Linked DNA regions of Homo sapiens. The protein of the gene in region 3 interacts with the protein of the main gene of each other region in a biochemical or structural test. Each region holds a gene or a part of one and is shown on either strand. Other genes may lie near its edges.

Region 1 (4,427 bases), on a different chromosome or scaffold from region 3:
CCCTTGGCCTGTCTTCGGTGACAGCAAGGGCATCTACAAGCCAGGGAGCCACACATCAGAGCCACACACATGAGGCCACAGGCCAGGAAGCCACACACATGAGTTCTCACACATCGAAGCAAATGCTGAGACTATACCGGCCTCCCGCAAGAGAAGGAATCTGCAGAGAAGTCCACATTCCCGACTGGCTTTTTTGTCTTTTAATAAAAATAAAGAGTCCTCAGAATAGAGCACTCAATCCGCACTTAAAACACAAATATTTCCAGTAGGAAGAAAGAAATACATTAAGATTGACTCTCAAAGGTCTGGATGTTGGTGCGTTGTTTAGGAAAGGCGGAGCAGTGATTTTTCTCTGGCTTGGTTCTTTGTGGTTCAAGCTCTCTCTTGCTGAGACGTTTCTGCAAAGCTGTCTAGTTTTTCTAAAACCCACGGTGGCGTTTCGAGAAACGTCCTCATTTCGGGAGTATCCAGTCAGAGGCTGGTCAGGCCGCCAGGCCTAGCGGATCATGCCCAGGCAGGGGGTTGGACGTCACCGCCACCCGGAGGTCATCCATCCGCGTCAGTGGGTGCAGAAAAAGTGGCCCTGTTTAAGTCAGGACCCCAGAATGCCCAGAAGTTACTGAATGGTTTGAAGCCAAGCACAGATGTTATCATGGAAAATGCAGCGTTTTTATTTCTTTTTCTAAATATGTAACTCTTCCTCCACTTCCCCCTCTCCTGCTTGCCTTATTTCAATTGCAAGCAGAAGAGAGTGAGTGTTCTCTGCCGGCAAACTCCGCCAGGGTCCCGGCCCGTAGAGAGTCGTCAAGGGTCTGGAACCCCCGTGCCAACACCTGCCCCTGCTTCGCAGCCCCAAGAGGAAGGCCGCGTCTTTCCCCCTCGCTGTATTGGGAAGCTACGTTCCGGGCTGGCCAAATGGGCCCCAATTTTCCAAAACCCAAATTTGTAATACCCTTCAATTTTTTAAAAAAAAGAATTTAAAAAAGTCTCTGTGAATGCTTCAGAAGTTACCGTTTACACCCCAGAAGTACTTGCAGCACATCCACAAGTAAAAACACACAACGAATGCCAGAGTTTCGTGTGTTTTTTAACCGACATCTTTGTGGCTGTGAACAAACTTCATAAATAAAATAGAATCAAATGCTTCTGACCTAGAGAGCTGGGTCTGCAAACTTTTTTTTTATCGTATTCCGCAACAGTTAAATAAAAAATTAAAAACTCAACATGTCTCCTTGTAAACTACATCAATTAACAAACACACTATGTCCATTATCAAATATAATAGAAAAAATATAGGAAAATAGAAAATAGAAAAATATAGGAAAATAGAAACTTTTAAGCCACGGTGAAAATGTTTCTATAAATGAGTGGTTCTAATGTTTTCGTGAGCGCCCATTTTGGGGAGCACCGCCAGCTGCCCGTTCAGGAGTGTGCAGCAAACTCAGCTGAGAGAGAAAATTGGAACAAAAGCAGGTGCTCGCGGGTACCTGGGCCTAGCCTCTTAGTGCGGCCAGCCAGGCCAATCACGGCCCCCGGCTGAACCACGTGGGGCCCCGCGGAGCCTATGGTGCGGCGGCCGGCCCGCCGGTCCGCGCTGGCTGTGGGTTCCCTCTGAGATCAGTGCGGAGCTGTCAAAGCGAGCAGGGGTGGCGCCGGGAGTGGGAACGCCACACAGTGCCAAATCCCCGGCTCCAGCTCCCGACTCCCGGCTCCCGGCTCCCGGCTCCCGGTGCCCAATCCCGGGCCGCAGCCATGAACGGCGAGGAGCAGTACTACGCGGCCACGCAGCTTTACAAGGACCCATGCGCGTTCCAGCGAGGCCCGGCGCCGGAGTTCAGCGCCAGCCCCCCTGCGTGCCTGTACATGGGCCGCCAGCCCCCGCCGCCGCCGCCGCACCCGTTCCCTGGCGCCCTGGGCGCGCTGGAGCAGGGCAGCCCCCCGGACATCTCCCCGTACGAGGTGCCCCCCCTCGCCGACGACCCCGCGGTGGCGCACCTTCACCACCACCTCCCGGCTCAGCTCGCGCTCCCCCACCCGCCCGCCGGGCCCTTCCCGGAGGGAGCCGAGCCGGGCGTCCTGGAGGAGCCCAACCGCGTCCAGCTGCCTTTCCCATGGATGAAGTCTACCAAAGCTCACGCGTGGAAAGGCCAGTGGGCAGGTAAGCCTGGCTCCCCACCCCTTTCTCCTTTCCGGTTCTCACCCGGCCGCCTTACCTCCAAGCGCTCCCAGGAGCCTTCTCTCTGTTCCCGGCGCCTTGGATTATCCCGGGTCGGACTAAACTACATCAGGGAGCTACCGAGCCCATCCCTCACAGCAGTGCTTCTCTAGTCCAGTTTGAAGCATCTTTCCCACCCAGCTCTCCTGGGAGTGTACACTCCTTCCTTCCCTGTTCGCTGAGCCCATCTTCGCCCCAGGAGCCCGCGCTCCCAGCGCCATCCTTAGAGAGCCGAGGCTGAGTCCTGCTCAGGGCTTCGGACACTACAGATCCTCCTCCAGCAGGGGATCCGGGAACCCAGGACTCCTTGGTAGTGCACATCGAGGAAGCCGAGTAGGGACATGGGTGCCTCGGACCCAGGCCCCAGATCGCCTTCGGAGCCCCGGAGCCCCTCACTTCCCGCGCTTCGTTAAGGAAGGGCAGGCATCTAGGGGCGCCAGGTAGGTGCAGAAAGGCAGGGAGGGAAAGGAAACTGCACCCAACCCAGCAGTGTCCGGCTGCCCTGGTTGTGGAAACAGGATAGGAGTAAAGAGGAAGGGGCTGGGGCAAGGCGGGGGCTCACCGCGAGGCTGAAAGCCGGCCTCTCAACGTCAGAGCCTGGCAGCTAGGAGAGCAATCTGAGAAGCGAATTCGTTTTTCACCAACCGAAAGCAATTGAAGCTGTCTCCCCGCACCGCTTCCCAGGAAGTAATTTTTCAGGAGATGGGCGCTCCCTGCCTAGCTGGTGGGGAGGCGAGAGGCCTGGTTCCTGCGGCCCTCCGCGCCGGCAGAGAACAGAAGGTCTTTCCCGGAGCCGGGAGCCGGAGGCACGGGGTAGCCCCCGGGTCCTTTGCGGCCCCGCGCGAGCGGCAAGTTCCGGCGCGGCCTGTGTCGTCGCCGCTACTCACTGTCATCGCTGCCGTGCCTCAGCCACTTCTGGTCACACCTGCACCGCAAATAGTTGCCTTTTCCTTTCAACTGGCAGCCGGGAGTAGGGGGAAGCAGCTCGAGCCGGCGTCCCCCGGCCCACCCCGAAAATCCTCAGCGCCCATCTGCGGGGTCTGGCCAGCCCTGCCTGACACTGACCCCAGGCGCAGCCAGGAGGGGCTTTGTGCGGGAGAGGGAGGGGGACCCCAGCTTGCCTGGGGTCCACGGGACTCTCTTCTTCCTAGTTCACTTTCTTGCTAAGGCGAAGGTCCTGAGGCAGGACGAGGGCTGAACTGCGCTGCAATCGTCCCCACCTCCAGCGAAACCCAGTTGACAGGGGCGCCAGAAGCTGCCGCGGCGCCTCTGCAAATTTATCCAGCTCGCGCAGCCCGGGCCAAAGGCCTTGAAGTCTCCGGAAATGCGGGGTTCTTAGGAGGCGGGAGGACAGTCCCTCGAACAAAGGTGGGGGGCTCCTCGTCCTCACCCAGTTTTCTTCCAGGGCTGCCTCCCCTCCAGACCTCTCTTCTGGCCTCCTAGGCCCTCGGAGCTCCTGCTTTCCCACCCTGGGCCTTCCTCAGGAAATGGGCGACATCAGGGTCCCGAAAGAGGATTTGTGAGGTGGAGTAACTTCCCTATCCCAACCCAAGGGGTGATACCTCTGCTCTGGAGGACTTGGGCTTAGGCTGACCCAAGAAGCCAGAAAGTAAAACCAGAAGGCAAATCAGCAGCCTTGGCGAGGGTTCGGGGACCCAAGGAGGGCGACACTCTCGGGCTGGAGTTGGCCCCAGGCCTTTGCTGGCGCCCTCTAACCCGCTGCATGCTCGACTCTCGGGGAAGGAGACGACCTCCCCTCTCTTCCCCTGGAAGCCGTCTGCGGGGCCGGCTGCTATCCCCGCGTTCCTCTAGGGGAAACTTCGATGGAGCCGAAATTCAAAAATTGCAAACCCACCTGCCCCTGGGAAGAGCGAAGTGACAAAAGGGCTCTCACTGGCAGTACGAATCTGAATGCTAATGACAACAGAGGTTTTGAAAAACATTGACCCCCAAATGCTTCAGCAGCGCTGTCCAGCTGGCACCTAAACTGCATCACTCTGCGCCTTGGGGAAGGGCCCAGGCTTGGCGACCTTGACCTTTTCCCACCATCCTCAACCTCCACCCCTGCCGCGTCGCGCTGAGCACAGGTCCCCCGGGAATAGTGCACCCCAGGAAGTCTCTCCCTGAGCAGTCTCTCGCAGGGACTTCACGAAGCCCTCTCGCAGGGACTATACGAAGCCCGCAGCCTAAGGCAGGAACCCAGAGACATGTC
Region 2 (3,647 bases), on a different chromosome or scaffold from region 3:
CTCCTGTGAGCACTCTGGTGGGAATACAATTAAGCTGAGGAATAATAGCTGGGAGAAAACCAAAGGAGTCTTTTGCATATGGTGTTTGTTTGCAAAACAATGGACTTCTTTATTACTTAAGAAAGTGTAGCTCAGTTGTCAAAAAAGAAAGTGATCAGCTATGTAGAGGTGAAAACAAAAGGAGAGTTGAAACTGCATCTTTCTTCCCACCTGTCACCTGAAATGTTGCTGAGGAATGAATATCTGACTAGATCACAAAGACTTCCAGAAGCATCCCTCCTCCAATCAGAAAAAGAACTTAATTATCTACTCTTTCCCCACCACTTTTACAGCAACCAAGGAGGACTGACCTGATATTTCCACCCCAGGAACCGTTTTTATCAGCTCACCTTGAAACCAGCAGAGATGCTCAGGAGGGTCAGAGAAGGCTCTTCTCCTTGAAGTTTCTAATAGAGGACAACACTCGGCAGGGGTTTTACCCCCTTTTATGTGCTACTAATCCTGGTTTTTGTGTTTTGCGTTTTTTATTTTTATTTTTTTTTCGGTATAGGCTAACTCTTCGGGTAAAACGAATTGCTATTTTTTTCCCTTTTTAATTTCACTCTTTTATTCTTTACATCTGGAGGTTGTTCCCTTATTTATGTCTTTCTCTCCAGTTCCCCCAAACACTCCCTTACTCACAGAGCTGCAAGGCATCATGGTTCTTAGTTCTCAGCAGGAGAACTCCACACTGTCTTCAAACAAATACTTACGGGGAAGGTTAGAGGTTCACTCAAAGGTCATTTCTTTGGATACTAGTCAGAATGTTTACATTAGTAAAAACGAGGTCCGCTCAAAAGGTTGTTCAATGGGGGACACACAACAATGCAGAACATTAAAAAAGCATTCTGTGAGCTAGCAGGTCTTTATAGAAGCACTGAACTTGGAAATGCCACTCCAGTATAACATTTTCAACTAGTTACCATGGCATGGACTGGATGTTCACTAGCAGTTATGGCAATGGCCTTTCTTTACCCACTTCTCCTAAGCAAATATGAATAGAAGCCTCTGAAGGTTTTCACTAGGTCCTTTTAAAAAGGGTCACAGAGATTTTGCTTTTTTCACTTGGGCACCATTTAGCCTCTCTGGATTTTTGTTCTCAAACAATGTTTTTGATCCATAGTGCTATTTCTTGACAGATTCATAATTCTACCACATTCTTTCAAATCACACAGAATTTTAAAAACATATGGGCCCCAAATTTTCAGAAATCTCTTAACATGCAACTCCTGCCAATTGTCAATTCCCCTGATCTTGGGATATTTTATTGACATCATAGATATTACTATGAAAATTAACAATTAATGAGCTGACTGTAAGAAAACCCTGACATTAAAAAATGAAATTACCGCCTCCTACCAGTACTGATGACTCAGAGGCCACTCTTAGAAAATACACTGACATACATAACATGGAGCCATTTAAATTATAGACTAAAACAAATCAAACTAGAAATAATTTTTATTTATTTAATATTTGTAAGATGAAATTTCCATATATGGTCTTTTCTCAAAATTACATGAAATAAATTTTTTTCCACATCTTCTAATCTATATTTTTTAGAATGACCTTTTTCAATGCTCAAGTAGTAAATAGAATATCAAGCTTTGATTTTACGTAAAATTTGAAGAAGCTAAGTTGAAAATCAACTCATCTTCAGTCTTTCAAGGTTCAGGCTCCATTCATATGGAAAAATGTAACTTGCTGGTTCAAAGACAAAAGACTTGTCTTAAAAAGACTCAAAAGGTTCCATGGATATTAAATGGGCCTTATAAAATAACATTTTGATGAGTTAAGTGTAAATGAATCAGACACATATGGATTAAGTTATCCTTGAATTTCACACGGGTTTAAAAAATAAGGGGAAAAGAGGGTCTTGGCAAAAAACATTTTGGACTTTGCCAAACCCAAAACATTTGAAAAATTGCTGAAGACATCCAACTAACCAAAATGCAGCAAGCTGCACCCAACTTTAATGAAAACCCCCACAAGTTATTTCCAATCCAAAGACTGTTAGATTTTTCATCTGTATCTGATATTAAAAAATTCTCTAAGTTTTAATGTCATACCAGAATGATTTCGAAGTTGCAGGCATATAATCTACTTTTCTATCGGTTTAAACAATTTAAGTTACAAAGTCTTCTTCAATATTAAACAGTTCTTAAAAAACATTCTGAGTTTTTTTACAACTTGTCCATAAAATGTACCAGTAAGCTTAGTGTCTAGCTCTATCTAGATTTCACTTAGAAAAAAAATTTTCATTAGCCTCATTGTGACTTTTTTTAAAGGGCTACACATAATTTCATTAGTGAGTCCTTAGGGAATGAATACCCTAAAGAGCCCTAGTTCCATTGATTTGTATTGAACACAAAGTTAGTATCCAGGCCCATACAAAAGCTTGGGAGAGTATCTACTAAGACTATCTACTTTTTCTCTAAATTTTACTTAAGTAGAAAATGCATGAGTATGTGTGATCCTTAAAAATTATATACTAAGACTGTTAGTTTAAAAATAACTTAATTATAGAAATAAATTCAATGATGTTCCAAGAATCACGAGGCCTTTCTGACTCAACTCAGAGATGAAAAAATACATTAAAACAAATAAACCCAAGGTAGCAAATATCACTGTAATCTCATCTTACTGCCTTGCTGAAGAGCTATTTCCCAGAGACCTCTCCTGTCCTCAGAAAGTCTAAACTTGGTAGCTTTGCATACTTTTCTACAACTGAACTCTGACCATCATGATTTTTCTTTAAAGACTTTTTACTCCGAAGTATGGTTCAGATTGATAGAAGTAGATTTAGGTGTCATTCCTGTTTGTTGTTGGTTTCTTTTCTTTATTCCTTTCTTTCTCCACCCCCCAATCTTTTTAAATGGCGGATAAATCCCTTCTTTCTGGTTCACTAACTTCATGCCACACCTGGTAACCAACTCCTTTTGGAGGCATTCCTTTTGTTAGAAAGTGCAGGCCTCCATGGAGTTACCTGGAAAGCTGCCATCCCTGAACACTCTGAGGAGGAATCAAGAATAGCTGGAATTGAAGATTCTGCATGGATTGCTTTGCGCAGGGAAGGGGACTGAACCGTTGAAGAGAGATCAGATCAACTGGGGAAAGGCGTAGGTAGCTCAGTGACCGGGGACCTGTTAAAACATGAAAAGGCCCTGCTTCCCTACTGTCCCCAGCCCTGGGACCCATCAGCCACAGTGCTTATTCACAGCACTTGCTCCTGGCTGGTGTTTCAAATGATGAAACTTCAGCCTTGGCAAGTCACTTATCAAATTTCTCCATGTTTTCTTACTTTACAAAAAAAGCAAGTATTTCTCTGTGCTATGGTTACAGCTGAGAGTAGGATTTTCTCAGTAAGATACATTAAAATGGTTAAATCAGTGAATAAGGCAAGCTTAATGCCTTTGAAGATGAACTTGGGCACGCAAATGATGGAGTCATGTCGCAGACATAAGTTTTCCACTGGTGACCAGACAATGGCTCCTTTCTCACAGACAACCGTGAGCAAAGTAAGGTAAATGAATGAGATTCATATGTTACTTAGGGACAGACTCATGGATCATAATGAATTTCCCTAAGCAATAGTTTGATTTATAATT
Region 3 (3,647 bases):
AAGATATGCTGGCAAAAAGATTGAAGGTTCCAGGGTCTTGAGTAGCCAAGTAATCGTGCTTTAGAATCAAAGGGTTCTTTTCAGCAGACCACAGTTGACTCCTACCTTTAACACAACACTCAACATTCCAGGAGAGGTTTTTGCCTTCCCTTCAATCCTTCCAACACACAAGTTGAAGACTAAGAGGGAGGTAAGCCTTTTTTTTCCCCTACTTTCACCCAGGGGTGCCCTCTTAATCCAAGACTTGTGTGTGTGTGTGTGTGTGTGTGTGTGTGTCCCTTAACACAGGGGGCAATGACTCTTATCACTTTCAATTACATTATTTGTAAATTGTTTTTTTAAATATGTTATTCTAGAGACAACACAAAAAACCTTAATTTAGATTTTTTTAAGTCTCTAAACATTAAATGTATTGACACAAAATTTAAAATACAAAACTTTTAGAATGTTACTTTGACCAATACGACTGACTACTTTACTTCCTATCATTATACTTGAGCCAACATGAACAAGGAGCGAACTCTTTAACCCTCACCTGAACCGGATCTCTATTCACACCCACCCACTTTAATCTACTGCCTCAGTAGGTTTTAATTAGGAAACTAGAATTAAGCACTTTGGCCACAATGTACATTTAAGTGCCCTGACAGGCTTCCTTTCAATAAAAATCTGATAAAGTATCTTCAAAAATAGACTCTCTTTAGTCCATATTATCACATATGCTTTTATATTTTGATTCTACATTTCATGAAACAAGATCAGCAGGAACTCATACTTGGTTAGAAACAAATCTCAACAAACCAAACACTCAAAGTAAATAAGCATCAGAGATCAAAGAAGAAAAAAGAGAGAAGATAAAAAAATATATATAAATATATATATACACACACACTTAAGTTTCCTACTCTGGGCTAATAGAAAAAAGAAACTAAAAAGTGTGACAAACTGGAAAAAACTCTTTTGATATTTGAATGCACAGTCCATAAATCTTTTAAAAGTTGTCTCACAGCTAAAATAATGCAATTAACAGGTTTGCAATAAGGTTAAGCTTTGGCAAGGCAACCTGGAAGACTTAGAGGTCTGAACATCACTTCTCAGGTGCTTTGTCTAGAATGTTATGCACAACACAAATAACATTCAACAAAGGAGCTGCGTACTAATTTTACACGCATTTCAAGACCCAAGTAATTACATATTCATTCAACAGTCACATCTTGAAACTATTTTTTTAAAAGAAAAACACAGAGAGCTCTCAAAAAGAAAGCCACCCTGTGTGCCCTCTCCCCCCGCCCATTTTTTATGTGTAACTATCAATGTATATCAACCAAGCATGCAATCATATTTATTGTCACTTTCATTCATGTCATGCCCTTGCTTATATGGTTTAGATATGAATTATTGACTGTTACACTCCTTGTTGTAAAAAATAAATAAATAAATAGGATGTCAGGTACTTTGCACTGCTCTAAAGCGAGCGGGTAAGTCAGAGCCCAGCAGAAGCTCCCGCTTTATATAACCACCCCTTGTCCCTCATCTTTATTCCCTGGTTTCAGATTGCCTTCTCAAATCTTTCTTCTTACAAGGGAGAGCTTTACCCACTTTGGAAAATTAAGGATTAAAATAAACAAGGGGATGTCGCTAAATGTCCTTCCCAGAGCATCTGTTGTTTAAGAACACCTCTGATTGATGACTGCTATTTTTTAATTGTTGCTTTAAAATTTAAATGCCCTCCTGGGATGTGTTATAAGTGTGTTAGTCCACGAAACGAGGTCTAGAAAGTAGAAAAACAACAGAGTGAATTATCTCATGGCGTTATACTCTCCTAAACCCAACGATTCTCCCTGCAATAAAATCACAGGCCACTCAAATACCGATAACCTAATGTTGTATAGCGCATTCCACAAAGGTATTTGACAACACTCTCTGTTGAGAACCTCTAGTCTGCTGCTTTGTGTAATTACAAGAAAAAAAGGAAAGGAAACTTTCAACAGTTTAGCACCCCCACACCCAACTCCAAAAAAATTAGGGTTTTAAAAATGGGCCAAAATATATTCCTTAAAAAAATGAACTTTTACTTTCATATTTTTGCCCCAAAGATACATCAGTCTATAAATTTCCTTTCAGAATCTATATTTTAGCCCCAATCTCAAAAAGGCTGGAAATAGAGTTCTGGAAAATTAACCAGTAGTGCTTGATAATAACTGTCAAAGAAACTTGATTCTTTTTTTTAAGGAAAGCAGGGCTAGGACTTCCTATTCGAATATGAGGTCAACCTTCATAGTACTTGTATTCTGAAATTTTAATATTTAAATAATAGATTTGTGACTGCTGGTTAAGTGATTTAATTGGCCAAAGAAAATGCTAAAATGTTGGAATCTCATTCCTACCTGTTTTTTCTTTGATTTCACACAACACATTAAACAAGGCAGGCTTCATTCTGTGGCAGTTTAAAGCATGTTTTCTGCAAGAAAGAAACAACATGATAGCTTAGGTGGACTCTCAAGATCAAACTGCCGATAATGCACAGGGTGAAAACATTTGAACATTTAGACAAAATTATATACCCAACCCTAACTCTGTGGCATGCTTCAGTTGTTTTCATGACTTAATATACAGAGTCCCGCCATAGAAAAAGAAATAATGTTAATTAGCAGGGAGAGGGTAGGGATTTAACTACAGAACAGAACTAACCTAAATTATGCCCATTTAGGGAAAGGGTTTTTTTTTTTTTTTAAGTAGTTTAATCAAAGAGTAATTCTTAAACCCACAATTCTTCCCAGGACAATGAACACAGCAAAGCCAAAGGTGTAGGTTAACAGTTTTGTAAAATCCATGCAACGACCACAGCCTAGGAACTGTCTGCCTCTCGGTCTGTGTGTTTTCAAATTTAATTCATCCATGTGTTCGAATTCATTCCGCAGATGCCCCTGTATTCTCATAAACACAAGATGCTTGAAAGGTCTTCTGAGTAGAACTGTCAATTTATAACATTTCAGTCCCCAAGTTAAAGAGTATGGAAATGCATTGCCAGGGGGCAAACATACCCATATGGGGAATAAATTCATTTCTCTGTGTTCACATTATGCTTCTGTGCACACACTGCTTATTTGCAGGTGTTGAAATTCAATTATTTACAATTAGGACCTTGCACCCATTGGGGGAAAAATAAATGCAATTTTGTCTTTTAGATTAGTGATTTACCTGGTGTGTGTGTGTGTGTGTGTGTGTGTGTGTGTGTGTGTGTGTATTCTGAATGCACTTGAGGAACAAAACAATACCTTTCCTTCTATTTTATTATGGAACCACTTAGCAGAATGATACTGTTTTGGAAACAAAATACTGATCATATCAGCTATTAGTTAAGTGAATTCTGTCTACTAACTAAAATTAATGTGTAAAGATAAATGGAAAGTTCTGGCACTCAAAACACATGCAATTCTTTTTTAATCCCTTTGAAAGTTAAAAAATAGACACATCCTCATGAAGAACAGAGATCAGAAACATGCCCTATGTACTGTACAGCAGGGGAGTAATAAAGTCAAAATTCAGGACTATCAAAATGAACACATACATTATATCTAAAATATTAATGGTTTACTTTTGTAAATAATAAATACACATTATAAAGGTGTGACTAGAAAAAGGAA

Evidence for each region.
Region 1: the proteins of PBX1 (region 3) and PDX1 form a complex in vitro, tested with the Homo sapiens proteins (one study listed by BioGRID).
Region 2: the proteins of PBX1 (region 3) and MEIS2 form a complex in vitro, tested with the Homo sapiens proteins (one study listed by BioGRID).

What each region holds. Positions count from the first base shown.
Region 1 is NC_000013.11:27,918,387-27,922,813, forward strand, and holds the start of PDX1 (pancreas/duodenum homeobox protein 1), read left to right. Parts: upstream 1-1,613; 5' UTR 1,614-1,752; coding exon 1,753-2,158; intron 2,159-4,427. UniProt on the Homo sapiens protein: Activates insulin, somatostatin, glucokinase, islet amyloid polypeptide and glucose transporter type 2 gene transcription. Particularly involved in glucose-dependent regulation of insulin gene transcription.
Region 2 is NC_000015.10:36,897,975-36,901,621, forward strand, and holds part of MEIS2 (homeobox protein Meis2), read right to left. Parts: intron 1-3,647. UniProt on the Homo sapiens protein: Involved in transcriptional regulation. Binds to HOX or PBX proteins to form dimers, or to a DNA-bound dimer of PBX and HOX proteins and thought to have a role in stabilization of the homeoprotein-DNA complex.
Region 3 is NC_000001.11:164,562,052-164,565,698, reverse strand, and holds part of PBX1 (pre-B-cell leukemia transcription factor 1), read right to left. Parts: intron 2,462-3,647; coding exon 2,388-2,461; intron 1-2,387. UniProt on the Homo sapiens protein: Transcription factor which binds the DNA sequence 5'-TGATTGAT-3' as part of a heterodimer with HOX proteins such as HOXA1, HOXA5, HOXB7 and HOXB8. Binds to the DNA sequence 5'-TGATTGAC-3' in complex with a nuclear factor which is not a class I HOX protein.